Linked DNA regions of Homo sapiens. The protein of the gene in region 2 purifies or fractionates together with the protein of the main gene of each other region. This does not show direct contact. Each region holds a gene or a part of one and is shown on either strand. Other genes may lie near its edges.

What was found.
Region 1: the proteins of ALDH7A1 (region 2) and EPS8 purify together in Homo sapiens (affinity purification with western blotting; 2 studies listed by BioGRID and IntAct, with this or other methods). This does not show direct contact.
Region 3: the proteins of ALDH7A1 (region 2) and ABAT fractionate together in Homo sapiens (co-fractionation; 2 studies listed by BioGRID). This does not show direct contact.

What each region holds. Positions count from the first base shown.
Region 1 is NC_000012.12:15,667,316-15,674,425, forward strand, and holds part of EPS8 (epidermal growth factor receptor kinase substrate 8), read right to left. Parts: intron 3,609-7,110; coding exon 3,541-3,608; intron 2,511-3,540; coding exon 2,349-2,510; exon of another isoform or gene 2,345-2,348; intron 2,222-2,344; coding exon 2,072-2,221; intron 1-2,071. UniProt on the Homo sapiens protein: Signaling adapter that controls various cellular protrusions by regulating actin cytoskeleton dynamics and architecture. Depending on its association with other signal transducers, can regulate different processes.
Region 2 is NC_000005.10:126,585,112-126,592,221, forward strand, and holds part of ALDH7A1 (alpha-aminoadipic semialdehyde dehydrogenase isoform 1 precursor), read right to left. Parts: intron 1-7,110.
Region 3 is NC_000016.10:8,670,378-8,677,616, reverse strand, and holds the start of ABAT (4-aminobutyrate aminotransferase, mitochondrial isoform 1 precursor), read right to left. Parts: upstream 3,001-7,239; 5' UTR 2,906-3,000; intron 1-2,905. UniProt on the Homo sapiens protein: Catalyzes the conversion of gamma-aminobutyrate and L-beta-aminoisobutyrate to succinate semialdehyde and methylmalonate semialdehyde, respectively. Can also convert delta-aminovalerate and beta-alanine.

The DNA.
Region 1 (7,110 bases), on a different chromosome or scaffold from region 2:
GAGCATCTCATCAGTTCCTTCTAATTAATAAAACTGAGGAGTACTTGTATAAAAGGGCCTGGCCAAGGTCACATTGCTAGTTAAATGAGAGGCCAATGCATCCCAGTCCAGTGTGACTTCCTAAGAGCATTTAGTTTCAATAAGACATTACAAATATCGTGTCAAAGGCTTTCTGTTACATAGGATACTAAAACTGAAGATGAAAAGATATTTAATTAAAAATAATTATTTAAAAAAACCCAAAATGAAAACTGAAGATGCCTAGGAATCTTCAACTTCTTATACTGGGGCTATTATATTTCTAAGAAAAATTTTACTGCAAAGGTGGGCAGGAGCATTGCATGAAGTCCTATAATAAAGAAACTTTAAAAATCAAAAGCAATATTGCACAATGAGCCATATAAAAGAAACTGCGTTTTTCATTGCCTCTATATTTTTAACCAGCCAAGCGAAAAATGTCTCATATGCAGAGTATGAAACTAATGAGTAAATGCATACAGTGCTTCGTGGTATGTGAGCTTTTGGGGTTAGGACAAAACTATATTCAGTAAATACATTTTGAATCCATTATCATTACCATTCCATATCAAGTAAAGCAAGCCATTTGTTCCCAAACCTAAAATCCAGAAACTTTTCACAGCATAGTAACTTTTAGCTCCCGGGGGGGGCTTTTTAGAACACAGATACAAACATCAAATTTGAAATGTTTTTCAACTTAGGCCTCTGGTTTATAAAAATGTTTGAATTAAATTTCACTATATTTTTAAAGCAAAATATTCCCTTTAATATTTATTGACTGAATATATCTAACCTTACAAAAATTATAATATACTATGACTTTCAAAAGGCACTATACAAAAATCTGATGAATATCACTTACACAAATTACCTAAATGCCAGTTCTTTTAGAAGAAGGTTTTTAGAAAGTCATCCATGACGTAAATTGAAATTAGAAGAAAATTATAAAATACAGTTTACAGTCAATCTTACTTTATCTATCATCTTTAAATGTCAAAAAACACAGAAAAGATCAAGTAACTGTGCTAATCTCCTAGAGTTTCTTTATAAAATAAAATTACATGGATATTTTATAATATATCATCAAAATGTTAAATCACTGCTTTGGCAAAGTACCAATTAACACAAAATGATTTCTCTTTTAAAGAAAACAACTGAGGAAATAAACACATTCAAGGTTGAAGATAACTTCTAAGGTCCAATAAAGCATCACAAATTATAATCATTTGAAATTACACTGTACTTTGAAATAGAAACTTTCAGGATATAGCCTGTTATTACTGGCTCAACTATTTTCACATATCATCTGGGAATTACAAATCCTGAGCAATGAATCAAGTCACATAATTAAATGGTGAACTTTAAATCAATATCGTGGGAAATGTCTAAGTACTTCATTGCAGTAATCCATGCTATGTCATTAGTGCAGAATAAATTCAAATTACATGATTATTTACTGTCCACAAAGCAAGATTTCTGAACAATCAATTTTTAATTATAAGTTTAAGGCATTTGATGTGAATTTAATATATTATCTACACTTTAAAAAAATAAACAGAATGCATCTTATTTTTAAGAGACACAATCTCAATCTGTTGCCCAGGCTGGAGTGCAGAGGGGTGATTATAGCTCACTGTAATCTCCAACTCCTGGCTCAAGAGATCTTCCTCCCTTAGCCAACTGAGTAGCTGAGACTACAAGCGTGTACAACCACATCTAGCTAATTTTTAAAACCTTTTTAGTAGAGACTGGGTCTTGCCATGTTGTCCAGGCTGGGCCCAAACCCCTGGCCTCAAGCCATCTTACAGCCTTGGCCTCCCAAAGCACTGGGATTACAAGTGTGAACTACTGATTTGATTAACATCACCCTAATTTCTTTATTTACTTGCCATGGAAATCCTAGAGAAGATACTAAGGTATTTGTTTTCCTTACGAGATGCTCAGAAACTAAAAATCTAGTAACTAATATGCAGATATATTATCAAAATAGGTAATTCAAAAGCTCCCAGACAATCTGCTTAAAGAAGAAACAAAAATTTCACCATTCTTTTACCTTAACCTCATCACACTGGAAGAGATGAAGATCTGGCTTGTTCTGGGTTGGCTCTTTGCACACCAGTGCAAGAACTGAATCATAGCTGCATGAATGCATCACAGCTTGGCAGTGCTGGATTGTGTTTAAAGGAAAATTCTCCAGTTCATTCTATAAATAAAGTGAACATTTTATTTTGTCAAACTTCCATCCATTTTCAAACAATCTGAAATGATTGTAAACATTAATATTTGTGGAGTTTCTTGAAAATAAAATAGTATAAATTTTACACACTTGCCTTTGATTCTAAATCAATCAGGCTCACAGCTCTGTCATCCACTTGAAGAATCATATCTTGAGTCCACACTTTGCCCTTGGCATCAAGCAATTTCAATTTCCTTATTCCATCATCAACAGTGATCATAGCATCTTTCCGATCCAGGACAAAGGTAGTCAAGTGCTTACAATTGGCAAAAAGGAAAAAGATTTATAACACATACAAACACATACAACCTCTTAGTATACATTTTCCAAAAGAAAATCAAATAACCTGAGGTCAGCTAGCAGAGAACGACAAACACAAAGTACTCTTAAAACTTCATGACTATTTTAATGAGAGAATAAAGCCAACCAAGGTTTTTTTTGAATAGAAGAAATGGTGTTTTGACTCATAAGATACCTAAATCTGTTTCATACGGAGCCATGTTGAACTACATAAACATGACATTAAAACAAATTCTTAACAGCTTAAATAATATTCTCTTAAAATAAACTTTCCCCTATTTGACACTCTATTATGGTTATTTAAATGCTGAACATAGCAGCATTTAAACAGCAGGCTATCTGTATGGGAGCTTCAAAACTATGGACACTGATTGTAGCAACAGCACAATTCTAGTCTATAGGAACTGTCAAACTATTCAATCCACTAAAACCACTTACTGAAACAAAACTGTTTAAATTTGATTAAGCATGCTTGACATAGGTAGAAAACTGAAAATAAGAGCAATTTAAAAATTACTTCCCTGCTTAAATATTTTCTATTATAAGCACAGGTCAACCAGATAAATTCCAATCAAGAGCAAATATCGTAAAAGAGGGCAAAAACTAAAAAAGAACCATTATTTAACTAGAACTGGCAATAACTTTAGTTAAACTAAAAACTAAATTGCTCACTGAAACTAGCAAAGGCTTAATTTCAAGAAGATTCTATAGTACAAAGTAAAAGCCATTATTCTATTATAAGTGAAATAAGACTGGCAAGGATAAATGGATAGTAGTTATGATTTTAAATCATTCTTTATGAAAATAGACCACAGACTAACAAGATACTTTATATGTAATATCTGTTTTAAAAAATCTAAACAAAAAGGTCAATGCAACTTAAAATACATCATAAGAATGAAATAAAACAGAATTCTGATTTAACTTCCAATTTTTATGTTCCTCAAGGGTCACTCTAAATACTAGCAAACACCAAAGCATCTTACTTCAACACGGTATTGAGATATATCTGACACACTGCTGACACTGTCCCGTGCATAATTCTTCCTTTGTTCTGAAAGAGAAATTGAAAAAGCCATGATTTGTCCCCTAATAGACTGAAGTTCATATGTTGGTATCATGTGGCTATCTCTAAAACTAGTCTATCTCACATATAAATACAGTAGCTGACAAGTTGCCATTGTGTGGTGTATCTGAAAACACTCATTATTCGCAGTAAATCTAAAAACCACAAGAAAGTCTAAATAATAGGCAAGAACAATTTGATCCACTATCCATTTTTAGAATTCCAAAGGTTAACAAGAGTATAAATATTATAAGAAAAAAAGTTATTTCATCTAAAGGTTTTATTTATCAGTCAGGGACCTACTGTTTGACAAGTCAATTACAACTGGCTTATAAATTTCATCTGTTACTGCACTGATATCAAAATGTAATTGCAAATATTGTCATAGATACTGTATTATATGAGTTAGACTACATTATTAAAATAATAGGCATTACAAGGAACATCTCCTTTTGCAATATCCAAATTGGGATAGTGTTAGAGGAGATTTAAAACATGATTCAATCACATGGCTTGCCATTAAATATTAACAGTTTTCACACATCTACAAAACACACAAATGTGATACTTAGAATTATAAATATAAGCTGATAGGAAAAACAAGAAAGTCAGGTAGAAAGTTATTGCACCAAACTACTTAAAAAGCAAAAAGAAACCTTTAATTTTCTTTTCTGAAATGCTGCAAAACCAAAAAAATAACATTAAAATATAAAATGTATGTCGGCAATATTTGGTATTTGTTACTCTCTTTTTAAAATTTGTATTGTTTTTTAAAATATGGAACACTTCATGAATTTGAGTGCCATCTCTGCACAGGGGTCATGCTAATCTCTGTATCATTCCAATTTTAGTATATGTGCTGCCAAAGTGAGCACTATTTGTTACTTTTCTAATCAAGCAACTTGCTTATTTGTAAATTCAGAGTTGCCCTATTTCTTCTAAACAGAATGCTATGATGAAAAATAACTCTGAGAGGGAATTATAAGATTTATTGTTCCAGCTTCGGCTCTGTCACTAAGTAGGAAACTAAATTTGGGCAAGAAACTTAATACCCTGGGCCTCAGCACCCTTACTGTAAAATAAAAGGATTAAACAAGGTCAAACCTAAAGGCCTTTAAGCCATTAACATTCTGACATATAGATATACCTTAGCTTTCCCAACAACCTATTTTTTTGTAAATGTAAACCTATTTCTTTTAGTTAGTATAGATATTCTATAATAGATAAGTTGTTTGGAAAGTTCTGCTGAACATAAAAGCTGAGCAAGTACAAAAATATAAAGTGCATATATACATATGCAGACTCAGAACATTAACACAGAATTTTAAGAAAACTTAATAAATTTTCATTTTACAACACATATGAATTTCATTTATATTTACTTTTAAAATTTAGATTAAAATCTCCATGTCCTTGTATCAATATTACTCTGATATTCCAATACACTCCATTTTTGCTTTTGCAGCATTAAAATTACTTAATAAAAACAGATGCACTACAAAATTCACTCTGTGCTACCTTTCTTTTTTTGTTTGGATGATGACCTGAGGAAGTATGATCCATCTGGTCCTACCAAAATAATGTCATCAAAAAGAAAGATCTGGTTTCACCTAAAATTTTCTCTCCCAATATAACAAAACATAAACCTTCACTTACATGACTGTATTCTACATATTTTTAAAAAGTGAGCGACTGTGATTTTTCTGATTAGTTGTTGAGGATTAATCAGTGTGAGATATTAACACATCGATAATTGTCCCTGTGACAGCCGTTATGACTCTTGTAATACAATATATAATTCAGGAATATATTTCACAAAACCACATCTAGAAATAATCACTATTTCAGAGTCACTGGTTCACCATATTCTAACACAACTGTCCACGATAGATTCAGAGCAGGAGGGCTCGGCTTGCTTTGATCTGACCTTAGGACAGAAAAGAAATGGCAGTGGTTGCCATGACACCCAGTCATGATATGGCAGCTCCTGGATGTTCAAATGCTTTGTCTTTCAGGTAATTTATTGGCAAATACAACAGTTGAAGATCTGAAATACTGTGTGTTTCTATTTAGATATTCTCATTATGAAGTATTAAGAATTTATCCCTGACCTCTTGATTTCCTAACCCATAGTTTCCCAATCCCACAGAAACATAATTTACAGAAATGAGAAGAAAAACTATCTGATAGCATTTTAAACAGTATGACATTAACCGATCACTCTGAGTGCCTAGAAGATATGGTGTCATTTCTAATATTCCAAATTAAGAATCCACTTTAGGAATTCCTAAGCTGCTTTCTCTATGTTGTACAATAAATAAGTTGTATAAGAAACTACCTTTTAAAGATCCTAAAAATGTATAAATGCCATAAATGGACTTATAAATAAACTAGTAGTTCCAGTGATTTTTAAGTCAATCCATAAAGGTTAATATTAACATTTTAATAGGCAATTTTGAAAGACATTTCCTAAAAGGCAATTATAATACATTTCTTTTTTATGAGAATCACATGTATTCACAAGAACTGGTATAAATAGTAATTAGGCTCCTAAGCTAGAAATCTCACCAAAGCCTTAAAACAGTATAAAAAGCCTAACTAAAATCTCTCAACACTACTCAAGATGAATCCTCTAATGAAATTCACCACTTTTGCTAACAGTGGTTCTCATCCTTGGCTGCATGTTGGAATGAACTTTATAAAACAGTGTGCAACTCATCTACTATATACTATCTCTTCAAGCAGAACATTTTCCTTTCCAAATTAAGAATGTAAATATCGTCAAATGGTATATTAAATAATAAATTCATGAATAAACATGGCAGTAGGGTTTTAGGTTTCTAGTAGTACAAGCTGCTCAACTCCTAACATAAGACTAAGTCTATTTCCCCTCCTATTCTGGCCCCTGCCTCTCTTTCTCGCTCAGAATCAATTAGAGGTAGGATGAAACTTACTTGGCTATAGAACCACTGGTTGTGTTTCACTATTTTGTCTATTAGCTTTTATGTCATGGTCCAGAATGTACAACTCCAAACAGACAGAATTACATGAATTCAGTAACCAACGATGAAAAATATTTACATACAATTTTATCATACACTATTGCAAAAATTGATATTCAACTCCCAGATCAGAAATACTAAATTTAGGTTTCATTTAATTTGTTAATTAGTTGAACTACAAGTATAAAAAGCATCCAGGTGTTGGTATTTACACTTAATTCCCTTTCACATGCATTGCTGTTTATGCATAATATAACATTTGAAACGGCTAATATTCAAAGATACAGCTAATATTTAGAATTTTTTTTCTCTTTCTCTAAAAACAAAAATGTTCCTTAGAGAGTAAGGATTTGGCCATTAACAAGAAAAAAGTAACATAAAAGCAGCTGCTGAGTATTCCTCTCTCTAAATAAAACAATGGGCTAGAACTCATATTACTTTATACTTACAAAAACTTTCAACCACAGTAAGGGAGAATTCCTTTCCCA
Region 2 (7,110 bases):
ACATGGTGAAACCCCATCTTTACTAAAAATACAAAAATTAGCCGGGCATGGTGGCAGGTGCCTGTAATCCCAGCTACTTGGGAGGCTGAAGCAGGAGAATCACTTGAACCCCGGAGGGGGAGGTTGCAGGGAGCTGAGATCCCGCCATTGCACTCCGGCCTGGATGACAAGAGTGAAATTCTGTCTCAAAAAAAATAATAAAGTACAGGTAAAAGGAACATTCCCCTCCATGAAACCTTCCCCCAGGCAGAAGCCAATCACACCCTCCCCCTAACTCCCACTGCTCCTAATCACAGCACTGCTCACACTTGCCTCACAGAGCTTGGCTGTGAGCTCAAGGTTCTTCCTTGCTCTCTCTTCTCCCCAAGTGTATCACTGTCTCTTAGTACAGCTTCTCTGGATGGTCACTTTGCAATCTATTAACATTTAAAACATTCCTACCCTTTGTTTTATCTATTTATTTTTTGAGACGGGGTCTCGCTCTGTCACGCCCAGGCTTGAGTGCAGTGGCGCGATCTCGGCTCAGTGCAACCTCTGCCTCCTGGGTTCAAGTGATTCTCCTGCCTCAGCCTCCCAAGTAGCTGGCATTACAGGCGCCTGCCACCACGCCCGGCTAATTTTCTGTATTTTTAGCAGAGATGGGGTTTCACCATGTTGGTCAGGCTGGTCTCGAACTCCTGATCCCAGGTAATCCGCCTGCCTCGGCCTCCCAAAGTGCTGGGATTACAGGCATGACATTCCTACCCTTTAACTAAGCAGCTCTGCTTACAGAAACTGAGCTTATATACATAAGTATGCAAAAGTATAGGTACAATGATATTCATTGCAGTGCTGTTTCTAGTAAAGAAAAAAAGAAACCAACTGTCCATCAGCACATGATTGGTTAATTACGGAACAGTGATAAAATAAGGTCGATTTTTATGGGAAAACATTGAAAAGCTATAATAGAATAATACAAAACAAGAAAACACTTATGGTAAGTAAACTTTTGCTTAAATTTGGAGCAACATATACCAAGCTGTTCACAATGGTTTTTTGTGGGGAATGAAATTATAACAGATTTTCATCCACAATTTATATGTTTGCAATGTCTGTCATTTTCACAACATATGCACACTTTTGGAAACAGGAAACAAAAACCTGTAGCATTATATCAATCAGCACATAACCTATACATTTCCTAGCACATGGTGTGGGTTTAATGATGTTTCAATTGAATTTAGTCAGCACATTTATAAGCTTAGTTAAGTTGGTTAATTTCAACTCAGAATGGCCAGTATACATGGCCTTTTACCTCCCATTCTGGACACATTTTATTCAGTCAGTCTTTCAACAAATAATTATTGCATATGTTCTATGTGCCAGATACTGTGCTAATCCCTGGATATTCTACTGCAAATGAGGCAGTTACAATTCTTGCCCTCTATAGAGCTGACAGTCCATGGGGGTGATAAAGGCAAGAAACAGGCAATTACAATCTAATGTGGCAAATGCCATGAAAGGGGAGCTAGATTTCACAACTGGAGCAACCTGAAGTAGGCTTTTTACAAGTTTAGAAGTTTAGGGCTAAGACCTAAAGCATGCCAGGTGTTGTGAAGAGGTAGGCAAAGTGGAGGAAAAGCATGGGGTTAGAGGGGTACAGAGCATATGCAAAGGCTGAAAAGCAAGAGAAAGTGGTTTTGGAAAATTATGGCCGGGGGCTGTGGTTCCACGCCTGTATTCCCAGCACTTTGGGAGGCCGAGGCAGGTGGATCATTTGAGATCAGGAGTTCAAGACCAGCTTGGCCAACATGGTGAGACCCTGTCTCTACTAAAAATACAAAAATTAGCCACGCTTGGTACCTGTAATCCCAGCTACTCAGGAGATTGAGGCAGGAGAATCACTTGAACCCAGGAGGCAGAGGTTGCAGTGTGCCGAGATCGCACCACTGCACTCCAGCCTGGGTGACAGAGTAAGACTGTCTCAAAAAAAAGAAAAAAGAAAGAAAAAAAAAAACAGTTCCCTGTCTTCAAGAACAGAGAGACTCCTACTCTTTCTCACCAGAGATGGGAGGGAAAATGAGGACACATGGGGATGCAGACGGCAGAAATGGGCTACATTCTGTGCTGAAACTGGCTCATGGAAGAAAGCAGCAAGTCTATTCCTTAGAAAGAAATCAATTTCTATAAACTACCTTTCCATATGTTTCACTTTGTTTCCATTTTCCTTAAAGAAAAATGTTCCCTTTGAAAAATTCTAGAATTGGCCAGTCACAGTGGCTCATGCCTGTAATCCTAGCACTTTGGGAGGCCAAGGCGGGTGGATGGCTTGCGGTCAGGAATTCAAAACCAGCCTGGCCAACGTGGTGAAACCCCATCTCTGCTAAAAATATTTAAAAAATTGGTGGCGGGCACCTGTAATCCCAGCTACTTGGTAGGCTGAGGTAGGAGAATCGCTTGAACCGGGGAGGCAGGGCTTGCAGTGAGCCGAGATGGCACCATTGCACTCCAGCCTGGGCAACAAGAGCAAAACTCTGTCTCAAAAAAAAAAAGAAAAAGAAAAATTCTAGAATTAACTCAAATGAACTACATGAAACAGTGGTTTGTCCTAACACAGTCAAGGTCAGCCAAATGGATGAGGGCCAAGCAGAGAAGCCTCACGTGAGGGAGGATCGAGATGGGAAAGCTTCTGTGACGAGAAGGGGGTCAAGCTTTGGTCTGTTCTTACCGAGCCTCTCTAAGTCCCTGCCCCAGGGAGGAGCCCCAGAGCACAATTAGGAAAAACTCTGCCTCTTCCCTAAACCTTGAACTCAATTGCTTAACTCAAAATCAAACAAGTAGGATCCCCAGCTGACTCTACTATTACCCAGGAAAGCAACCTGTTCCCACGTAGCACCCCCATTCTATTTGTTGGGAGGTCTAAAAAGCACCAGAAGTATGAGAAAGGATGTTAGGTGCAGAGGCTGGCATGGTGGGTAAGAGTTGACTGCCAAATGAGATCCTGAATGTGAAAATAGCAACAAAAAAAGTACAGCCCAATATTTAAGAAAGATCATAATGTCAGCTGGCACTCCCTAGGGCAAAGATAGATTTAAAAACCAGTTCATTCCAGGTGTGGTGGCTCATGCCTGTACTTTGGGAGGCAGAGGTGGGCAGATCACTTGAGGTCAGGAGTTCAAGACCAACCTGGCCAACATGGTGAAACCCTGTTCTCTACTAAAAAATACAAAAAAAAAACATTAGCCGGGCATGGTGGCTCATGCCTGTAGTCCCGGCTACTCAGGAAGATGAGGCAGGAGAATCACTTGAGTCTAGGAGGCAGAGGTTGCAGTGAGCCAAGATCATGCCAGTGCACTCCAGCCTAGGCAAGAGCAAGACTCAGTCTCAGAATAAAAACCAGTTCAGGAAAAGACAAGACCCTGAATTCACATAAATTCTTTTTTTTTCAAATGTTTGTATTTACCCTAGATAAATAGACACATACAATAGACGTTTCTAGTCAAAAGACAACATGTTAAGTTGCACTAGCATTCAAAACAGGATATGCAAAGAGTGAACCCTCATGTAAATTGTGTACTTTAGTTTATAATAACACATGAACATTGGCTCATCAGTTGTAACAAAATATGACATACTAATGCAAAATGTTAATAACAGGGGAAATGGCCTATTACAGGCATGGTGGCTCATGCCTGTAATCCCAGCACTTTGGGAGGTTGAGGTGGGTAAATTGCGTGAGCCCAGGAGTCTGAGACCAGCCTAGGCAACAGAGCAAAACCTCATCTCTACAAAAAATACAAAAATTAGCCAGGTGTGGAGGAACATGCCTGTAGTCCTAGTTACCAAGGAGGCTGAGGTGGGAGGATTGCTTGAGCCCAGGAGGTCAAAGCTGCAGTGAGCCGTGAGCTGTGAGCATGCCACTGTACACTAGCCTGGGCGACTCTGTCTTAAAAAAAAAAAAGAAGAAAAGGAAACTTGGGAAGAGGAATGAGGGAGTAATGGGAATTCTGTACTTTCTACTCGTTTTTCTGTAAATTTAAAACTGCTGTAAAAAATAAAAGTCTATTAATTTCTTTTTTCCTTTGAGACAGAGTTTTGCTCTTGTTGCCCAGGCTGGGGTGCAATGGCTCAATCTCCGCTCACTGCAAGGTCGGCCTCCCAGGTTCAAGTGATTCTCCTGCCTCAGCCTCCCAAGTAGCTGGGGTTACAGGCGCGCACCACCATGCCTGGCTAATTTTGTATTTTTAGTAGAAACGGGGTTTCTCCATGTTGGTCAGGCTGGTCTCGAACTCCCAACCTCAGGTGATCCGCCCACTTGGCCTCCCAAAGTGCTGGGATTACAGGCGTGAGCCATCGTGCCTGGTCTATTTTTTTGTTTTTGTTTTTTTTAAGTATATATGTATAGGAAGGCCAGGTGAAGTGGCTAACGCCTGTAATCCAAACACTTTGGGAGGCCAAGGTGGGTGGATCACGAGTTCAGGAGTTCGAGACCAACCTGGCCAGTATGGTGAAACCCTGTCTCTACTAACAATACAAAAATTAGCCAGGCCTGCCACTCCGTCTGGGAAGTGAGGAGCGCCCTGCCCAGCCACCGCCCCATCTGGGATGTGAGGAGCGCCACTGCCCGGCCGCCCCACCATCTGGGAAGTGAGGAGTGCCTCTGCCCAGCCACCCAACTGACTGGGAAGTGAGGAGCGCCTCTGCTCGGCTGCCCACCATCTGGGAAGTGAGGAGGACCTCTGCCCAGCTGCCGCCCCATCTGGGAAGTAAGAAGCGCCTCTGCCCAGCTGCCCACTGTCTGGGAAGTGAGGAGCACCTCTGCCCAGCTGCCCAATGTCTGGGAAGCGAGGAGTGCCTCTGCCCAGCTGCTGCCCCATCTGGAAAGTGAGGAGCGCCTCTGCCCAGCTGCCCACTGTCTGGGAAGTGAGGAGTGCCTCTGCCCAGCTGCCGCCCCGTCTGGAAAGTGAAGAGCGCCTCTGCCCAGCTGCCACTGTCTGGGAAGTGAGGAGCACCTCTGCCCAGCTGCCACCCCGTCTGGAAAGTGAAGAGCGCCTCTGCCCGGCCGCCACCCTGTCTGGGAAGTGAAGAGCGCCTCTGCCCGGCCACCGCCCTGTCTGGGAAGTGAGGAGCGCCTCTGCCCGGCCGCTGCCCTGTCTGGGAAGTGAGGAGCCCCTCTGCCTGGCCGCTGTGCAACCTTCCAAGTGTGAAGTGACAGCCTTGTGTGTGATCTTTTCTGTCTTCTCCAAGTTTGCATTTTTGATGTTAAAGTTTACTTTTTAATTAAAAGTTTTAAATTGGAGAATATATTTTTTAAAAAAATTAGCCAGGCCTGGTGGCGCACACCTGTAGTTTCAGCTACTTGGGAGACTGAGGCAGGAGAATCACTTGAACCCGAAAGGCAGAGGTTGCAGTGAGCTGAGATCACACCACTGCAGAGTGACAGAGTGAGACTCCGTCTCAAAAGAAAAAAGTATGTATGTATAGGAAAACAACAATTTAAAAAAAATTATGCAGCTGGGCCTGGTGGTTCACGCCTGTAATCCCAGCACTTTGGGAGGCCAAAGAGGGCAGATCGTTTGAACTTAGGAGTTCGAGACCGCCCTGGGCAATATGGTGAAACCCCACCTCTACAAAAAATACAAAAAAATTAGCCAGGCATGGTGGTGTGTACGTGTAATCCCAGCCACTTGGGAGGCTGAGATGGGAGGATCCCAGGCCCAGAAGGCAGAGGTTACAGTGAGCCAAGATTGGGCCACTGCACTCCAGCCTGGGTGACAGAGCCAGACCCTGTCTTAAAAAAAAAAAAAAAAAGCAATAACTTTAGGATGGTATGGAATGCAAGCATCACAGGTCACAAAATTTTATACACACCATGTATATATGGATGTACAATAATCACAACTATGAAATAAATACATGAAAGACTGGAAGGAAATGCACCAAAACCTAAACCTAATGAACATTTTGCATTGCAGAGGTTGGGGTAAGGGGACTAAATTTGTTTATCTTATTTACAGCATCAATCTTTTCTAAAAAAAAAGAATATTTATTACTTTTATGATCAGAAATAAATACAAGTAAGTTTTTAAAACAATGAAGGACACTGTTTTGGACAGTATTCTCTATCCAGGTAGGGTGAACTTTACCTAGCACACTGTTTACTTGTGGAAGTGGTATTTTTCTGCCCAAGGATACTTTTGATTGTGTATAATGGAACCCTAGGCCATACTTCTATCCATAATTAAAGTAGAGGAAAGATGTGCTTCATGCTTTACACAAAGACGTATCTTGGCTGATAAAAAAAAAAAGCTTCATCCAACCCAGGGCTCTGTTGGACAGGCTGCTACTCTGCAATCCACCCCAACCCCACCCAACCCCCCTTGCAATCACTCACTCAGAGAAAATACTGCAGCTCAGTAGTCCCTCAGCAGTCCCACACCCAACAGCACAGGGTTTAACTCAAATGTATTGAGGCTTTTCCTGTGCCAGGCTCTCCAGTAAGCACTTTAAATGATTAACTCATTTAACCCTCCCAGGAGACAGGCACCCCCAGTCTTTTCTTTTTACAAGACAAAGCACACTGAGGATGGGGGTAGTGGAAAGGTTGGGAAATCAGGCTATCCTAGTTCGCCTTTACTCTCCCCTTCTCAGGAGCCTAGCTCCCACCTAGTGACAAGTCAGTGTGGCCAGCCCAGCACCAGTCACAGTTCCCACATTTGCTCATTTAACCAATGGTGGAGACTCAGAGACCAAGGAGGCTGACTCTGCCTCACAGCCTGATTAGACAGTCAAGGAACATGAGCCTCTGGCCCTGAGAAAGGGATGCTGCCACTGCTCTTTTTTTTTTTTTTTTTTTTGAGATGGAGTCTCACTCTGTCGCCCAGGCTGGATGGAGTGCAGTGATGCTATCTTGGCTCACTGCAGCCTCCGCCTCCCAAGCTCAAGCAATTCTCCTGCCTCAGCCTCCTGAGTAGGCTGGATTACACGCGCCACCACATTCGGCTAATTTTTGTATTTTTACTAGAGACAGGGTTTCACCATGTTGGCCAGGCTGGTCTCGAACTCCTGACCTCAGATGATCCACCCGCCTCAGCCTCCTGAAGTGGTGGGATCACAAGCATGAGCCACCAG
Region 3 (7,239 bases), on a different chromosome or scaffold from region 2:
TATCCTACAATACACAGGGGAGTCCCACAACAAAGAATCCTCTGACCCAACTGTCAACAGTGCCCAAAATGAGAACCCCTCATCTAGACCTGTCTCTTTTCTGATGTCCAACCCCAACAAACCTCATTCAAAGACGAGGAACTGAGGTTCAGAGACATGAATGACTTGCCTAAGTTTCCATAGACAGCCACTACCAGTGGCCAACTCTCTACTCCATCTGGCTTCAGGGTCTGTGGTCCATTCCACATACTACACTGTCTCTCTAGGAAGACATCCCCTTGTCCCCAGGCACCTTGGCCCTGGCAGATTATCTACGGCAAGGGTTACAAGTTTTGCCTTAAGGCATAAGCACCTCCCCACTTCATGATTAGAGGTTTTATGACTTTGCACTTGTAATCATTGTTTCTGCTCATTTTGCTGTGTGCTAAACATTTTATGAGGATTAACTCATTTTACCCCAAGGATATGTCACAGAGAGGTTAAGATCAGACACTAAGTGGCAGATTTGTGCTCTCGACCCAGATAAGAGGTCTCCAGGGACCAACCTCTCGGCCTCTCTACCGTGGTCCTCCTCATGCTTTGAACTTCGCCTTGGCAAAGTTGGGGCACAACAACCAATCCTTTAGCTGGGAACTGGGTGGGGGCAGAAACAGAGAGAGCCTCTACTTCAGACCATGCTGCCCAGCTGGGTGGTCCTAGAGAATCTGCCAGAATTTCAGCTCTTTTCCCATGCAATGCCCCAGGAGAAAAGACGCAGGCCTCTGAACAGAGATGAGACAATGTGCAGGGAACTCAAAGCCAGAGGGCGTGGGCAGGGGCTAAGAGGGAGGGGACCTTGGAGGGAAGGAATATGACATCCTCAGGACCTGTCCAAAGTTCTTGGAGCAAACCCAGCTATGCAAGTGAGGTTCCTGCAGTAGCCTCCACTCCAGCATCTCATTCTCATTAGCTGCAACTGATCTTATTAGCTATCCTGGGTCAGTTTGGATTTTGGCAAGCCTAGATTTGGCAATGGCCTCAACACAAAGATCGCACGGGGTAAGCAGGGATGCGCTGACACCCAGGAATGGATTCCACGAGGCAGCCTGCTGGGGGATGGCATTGAGTTCCAGCTCTGCCCCTTCCTGGCTTCATGACCTTTGCAGAGCCTTGGCGCTTCCTCTGACAAGTGGGGACTTGGGACCCAGCAGTCCCCAAGTCCCCATTGTAAATGTGAGGACTGGGGCTTGTGTCAGGGATCCTAGCACCTTAAGGGTCCTGGAGGGGTTGGGGCCAGCTGTCTCCCACAGGCTGGGTGACCTTGAGCAAGTCTCTTCCCCTTTTGTGCCTCTGTGTGTTTAACTGTCAAATGAAGGGGCCACGTCTTTAATGCAGAAGCCCTTTTAGGTCTTAGGACTCCAGACTGGACCATTTACCTCTCCCCGTGGCTAACCTCTTTGGGCCTCGAGAAAACACATTTCTCTATGACTCCACGCCGCAACACAGGCTCCAAAGAGCAAGACACAACTCACTGCCTCCCTCTCTCCTGCCTCCCAACCTGACCCACCAGAGAAGAGCTCTTCCCACCCCCTCCCCACCCCCAGGTCACCAACATCCTGTCCCTTAGTCTAGCTTCATCAAAGCAGCAAAGCCAACACTGTCTCCTCCCCAGTGGATGGGCCCAGCAGCACCCATTTCTCTTGGCTGAGTGCCCAGGGAATTCCACCAGGCAATGTCCACAGGCGCTTGCGGGGGTGCACACTTTAGGGGGGAAATGCGGGCCCTCTTGGAAGAGGGCCAGCTGTCCTCCCAGACTGCAAGAGAGAATGCATTGAACACAGCCTTTGTGCGTGTGTTGGGGCAGGGAGCGGGGGAGAGGTGGCGGGTGGTCTCTGCTGGTCCTGCTGCCTCAGAGGCCATCTCTGTTGTCAGAGTTTGAAGACTCCTGGAAGGGCCTCTAGGCCCCAGATCCCAGTTTTAAGAGCTCCAGTCTTACTAAATCTCGCTGAACCCCCTCTAGTCTTACCTTGGCCAGGGTGGGTGAGGAAAGGTGAGAGGATGTGAAATAGGTGGGGCAGCCAGGTGTGGGAGTGGAGTTGGGGTGAGGTGGAGAAGGATGGGATTGGGAGCGGTGGGAGGATGGTGCAGGGGGTTACTAGGATGGGGTTTGTGTGAAAGGGCTTGGGTGGAGTGGAGGGAGGTGGATGACTTGGAGGGGTGGCCAGACCTTTGCCCTGCTCCTGAGTATGAAGGTCCCTCATTTTACATCTTTACTGGGGAGGAGAGGGGAAATCCCCAAAAGCCTTTAATGTGGTGGTGTCAGAGGCCACCCTGCCTCTCTGACGGGTAGGGAGGGGTCTCCGGCAGGGCTAAGGGTGAATCATCTATCTCTCCAGAGCCCAGTATCTGGGGTGGGAGGGTGACTTGCAGAGTCTCTGCTCCGGGATTTCCTTGTCTTATGATGGGGGGAGAGCTTCCATTTGTCATGGAGGGGGAGGTCACTGTAATTTATAAGCTGAGAAGACCCCCATTATTCCGAAAGAGAGGGGAGAAGGAAGACACCCAAACTTAGTTTTCTAAGGATGGGGAAGGGGCATCAGTCTCCCAAGAGGTGAGGGGGCTCTAGAGACCTGGAGACCACTTTTTGGGGCCGCATTCTATTTCAAGCGGTAAAAGGGAGAGGACTTCTGTCTAGAGCTGGAGCCAGGAGGAAGGGCCCATTTCTGAAGGAGAAAGGAAGGTATTTTGCTCTCTGGGGGGTGGGAGCCCCTGTCTTTTCGGGGGAGGGCCCCGCGTCTTGGGAAGATGAGGGCTCCGTTTCCAGGAGAAGATGCCCAGGTTTTGCTCCTGGGGGCAGGGCAGAAGGACCTCCTCTCGGCTCCCCTCGGAAGGGCCCGTCCCAAGCCACCCGGCGCCTCGCGCTCACCTCCAGGCCCCGTCTCCGATCTGCGGGATCCGATCCGCCGGGTTCCGACTTGCGGGATGCGCGCCCCGAGTTCCGGCAGCGCTGGGTGTCTGCTCGACTTCCCCCAGCGACTCGCCGGACTCCCTGGCTCCGCCGAGCGTCCCGGCCAATCAGCGCCGCCAGCCCCGGCCCTCGCTTTCGCCACAGCCAATGGGTGCGCCCGCCACGGGCCACCGCCCCCAGGAGGGAGGTGGCAGGCGGGGCGGGGGCAGAGTCCAGCCTCCGGGGGCGGGGGAGACGGGGGCTGGGGCGGGACCCACCAGAGGGACCGCGAGGGCTGGGAGGGAGTCCTGGGACTGGGGAGGAGACGGCTGAGGACCCCCGTCAAGTTGTGGGGACCCTGACCCTCTGGGGGGCAGCTCCATAGGTTGATTTAACCTGGATCTTAATGGGCCATTTACACCCTCAGGGCTGCAGGCGAGTGTAACTCCACCTCCACCCGCGTCTCGGATCCGGTCTCTGGAGCTCCAGAGTCGGAATCAGAAGGGGTTCCTTTGCGGAGAAGGGAAGGAGCATCCCGCCCTCCCCACCTCACTCCCCATCTCGGCGCTCAGGGCCCTGCCAGCCCTTCTTGCTCCCAGCTACTTTCCTCCGCCTGGCCCCAGCGCTCCGGAAGACAAACAGGGCGCTGGGAGTCAGAGGTGGTTCCTTCTGCATGACCTGGAGCAGGTCACTGCGCCTCCTGATCCTCAATTTCCTGAAATTGGGACAACAGAGATTGTACCTCCTTCGTGGGTATAAACGAGACCCTAGATATGATGAAGGTGCCTTTCTACCGTTGTATAAAATGCTGTGTGGAAGATAATTAATACTCAGGTGTGACGGATGGATAGCCCCCCCACAGCTTTCTAGAGGTATTTGGAAAGAGGATGCAATCTTTCAGTGACAAAATCAAAGACACAAAGAACTGCTCATCAAGACAACAGGCGATCACCAAGTCCTCATAATGAATGAATGGATGGATGGAGAGTACAGACCTTAAAGGCAGAGAAAGAGTTCAGCTTGGTTCTCCCCACTCACCCTGATCACTGATAACTTGGTCTGTGGAGTCTTGTAGAACCCTGAGGTCTCTCCTCCTGCTGTCCAGGAATCCAGGCTGCCCTATCTCTGATTACACAAGCGCTATAGTCCTTGCAATTAAAGAATTAAGATAAAGTAAACACATAGATAAATAGAAAGCTGCCAAACAAATCATTCACCTCCTAGTGTCACCTCTGGGGACCCTCCCCCCCAACACACACACACACACACACACACACACACACACACACACACAGAGCAGTAAATAAGAATAATTGAGGCCTGGCACAGTGGCTTACGCCTGTAATTCCAGCACTTTGGGAGGCCGAGGCAGGCAGATCACTTGATGCCCAGAGCTCGAGACCAGCCTGGCCATCATGGGGAAACCCCCTTTCTATTAAAAATACAAAAATTAGCCTGGCATGGTGGCACCTGCCTGTAATCCCAGCTACCTGGGAGGCTGAGACATGAGAATCGCTTGAATGGAGAGGCAGTGGTTGCACTGAGGTGAGATGGCACCACTGCACTCTAGCCTGGGTGATTGTCACCTTGCTTGAGGAACTTGATGAGGCCTGTGCTGAAAATCTAGCAATTTTTTCTTAAAACCAAAGCCATGAACATAATCCCCTTTACTACCCTTGACCTGCCCAAAGAAATACAACGGCCAATAAACATGGGAGATGACACTTTGAAAAGGAAAGGCAAGTTAAAACCAAAAGAGGGAAAGAGTTTACCTACCAAAATGACCTTGTTTTTATTATTATAATTACTATTCTTTGCAAAGACTTCAAGGAGTTTCATGTATTGATGATGGCAGTAGAAAGATCACAGCCTTTCTGGAGGGAAATTGGGTATTTCTATTTTAAAAATCTTAAAAGTAAGTTGACCCTTTGATCTAGCAATCCAATCCCTATGAACTTATCTGAAAACATTTAAAGGTACAAAGATTTAATGATAAAGTAGCTTACTACCATTTTGTTTATCACAGGGAAAAACTGGGAACAACTTGAATGCACAACAGCAGGGACTCAGAGGGAAATTGTTGCATGAAATTGAACAATAAACATAGGTATGAAATATTGAATGGGGCTGGGTGTGGTGACACGCCTGTAATTCCAGCACTTTGGGAAGCCAAGGCAAGAGGATCGCTTGAGCCAAGGAGTTCAAGACCAGCCTGGGTAACATAGTGAAACCCTGTCTCTACAAAAAATACAAAAATTATCCGGGCGATGTGGCGCATGCATGTAGTCCCAGCTACTCAGGAGACTGAGGCAGCCTTGAGCCTGGGAGGTTGAGGCTGCTGTGGGCCAAGATTACACCACTGTACTCCAGCTGGGTGACAGAGTGAGACCCTGTCTCAAAAACAAAACAAAACAAATCTCAAAATGTTAAGTTATTTGCAAAAACAGTATATTTGGTACTGTCTTACTTTTTGTTAAACATCTTACTTTTTGTTAAATCTACCAGGTAGAGCTAGATCAATGCTGTGTAATATAACTTTCTATGATGCTCTATATCTGTGCCGTCCCGTGTGGTAGCCACTAGCCACATGGAGGTATTGAACACCTGAAATGACTAATTTTGGTATCCAAGATGTTTAAAAAAAAAAAAGAAAGAAAGAAATAATAAAAAAAGGAAAAGGGAAAAATAAATTTAAAATTTTGGAAAAAGCAATGACTAGTTAACCGAATAACTGTATTTTAATTGTATCTATTTATTTATTTTTTTAGAGACGGAGTCTCGCTCTGTCACCCAGGCTGGAGTGCAGTGGTGTGATCTCAGCTCGCTGCAACCTCTGCCTCCCAGGTTCAAGCGGTTCTCCTGCCTAAGCCTCCTGAGTAGTTGGGATTACAAGCGTGCTCCACCACGCCTGGCTCGTTGTTTAATTTTTTAATTTTTAGTAGAGACAGGGTTTCGTCATGTTGGCCAGGCTGGTCTCAAACTCCTGGCCTCCAGTGATCTGCCTGCCTCAGCCTCCCAAAGTGCTGGGATTACAGGTGTGAACCACCACGCCCAGCCTGTATCTAATTTTAATTTAAGGTGTAACAGTAACAGGTAGCTAGTGGCTATCATATTAAAAGGCACCGATATAGCTAGCTAGCAATGCTGAGTGAAAAACTGTGTTCAGTAGGAGAATGGTTATTTTTGTGTATTGAAATTATAGATTATTCTAATATTACTTTATTTGCATGTCCATGTCAGTAATTTCTTTTTATCCCCTTGGGTTTATTTTTAATAGAGGATAAACTTTACAATGTCACTAATTTCTAATTATTCTGTAATGAATATATATTACTCTGGTACTAAGAAGAAAATATTTAAAATGAAAAACAGAAAGGAAAAGTCTAAACCAAAGGGCCCGGAGTGGTGGCTCACACCTGTAATCCCAGTATTCTGGGAGGCTGAGGCGGGCAGATCACTTGAGGCCAGGGGTTCGAGACCAGCCTGGCCAACATGGCGAAACCCCATCTCTATTTATAAATAATTTTTTTTTAAAAAAGAGTCTAAGCCAAAGGTTGACAAACTATAGCTCATAGACCAAATGTAGTTCATCATGTTTTCCTATGACCATGAGCTAAGATTGGTTTTACATATTAAATGGTTAAAAAAATTCACAAGAAGAATAATGTTATGTGACACATAGAAACTACATAAAATTCAAATTTTACTGTGCATAAATAAAATTTTATGGGAACACAGCCAGGCCTATTTATTTATGCATTGTCTATGGCTGTCTGTGAGCTACAACAGCAGAGCTGAGTAGCTGTGACAGAGACTCTGTGACCTGAAAAGACAACAATATTTACCTTCCAGCCCTTTGCGAAAAATCTGCCGTGTCCTGGTCTAAGGCAATCAAGGGAAATAAGAAGTGTGTGTAGCCATCTTCATTCATCTGTTCATTCATTCATTCAACTAGGTTTTGAGCACCCATTTGTGGGTCAGGCCCTAGGAAAGGGCACTTCTAGAGGATAAAAGGAGCTGCTTTGTCTCTACTTAAGGACTAGGGAGAGAAGGCTATTTAGAGCCAGGTGCTTTGCAAGCTGATTCTCAAATAGCTTCATTGTGATACTTGTGAAGAAAACTGTCAGCATGTGGAAAAAGCCCTTTCCATATTGGCTTCCCTTGCATTTTCTGCCATTCTGCAGTTTTCCTATGGAGCTGCTTGGGGTTGCAGCTGTCTGCCAGGGAATGCAGAGTGTTTCCCAGAGTTTGGCTGAGGCCTGGGATGAAGACTCACCCATACTCTGTGCCTATCAATAAGCTCCTTCCAGAAG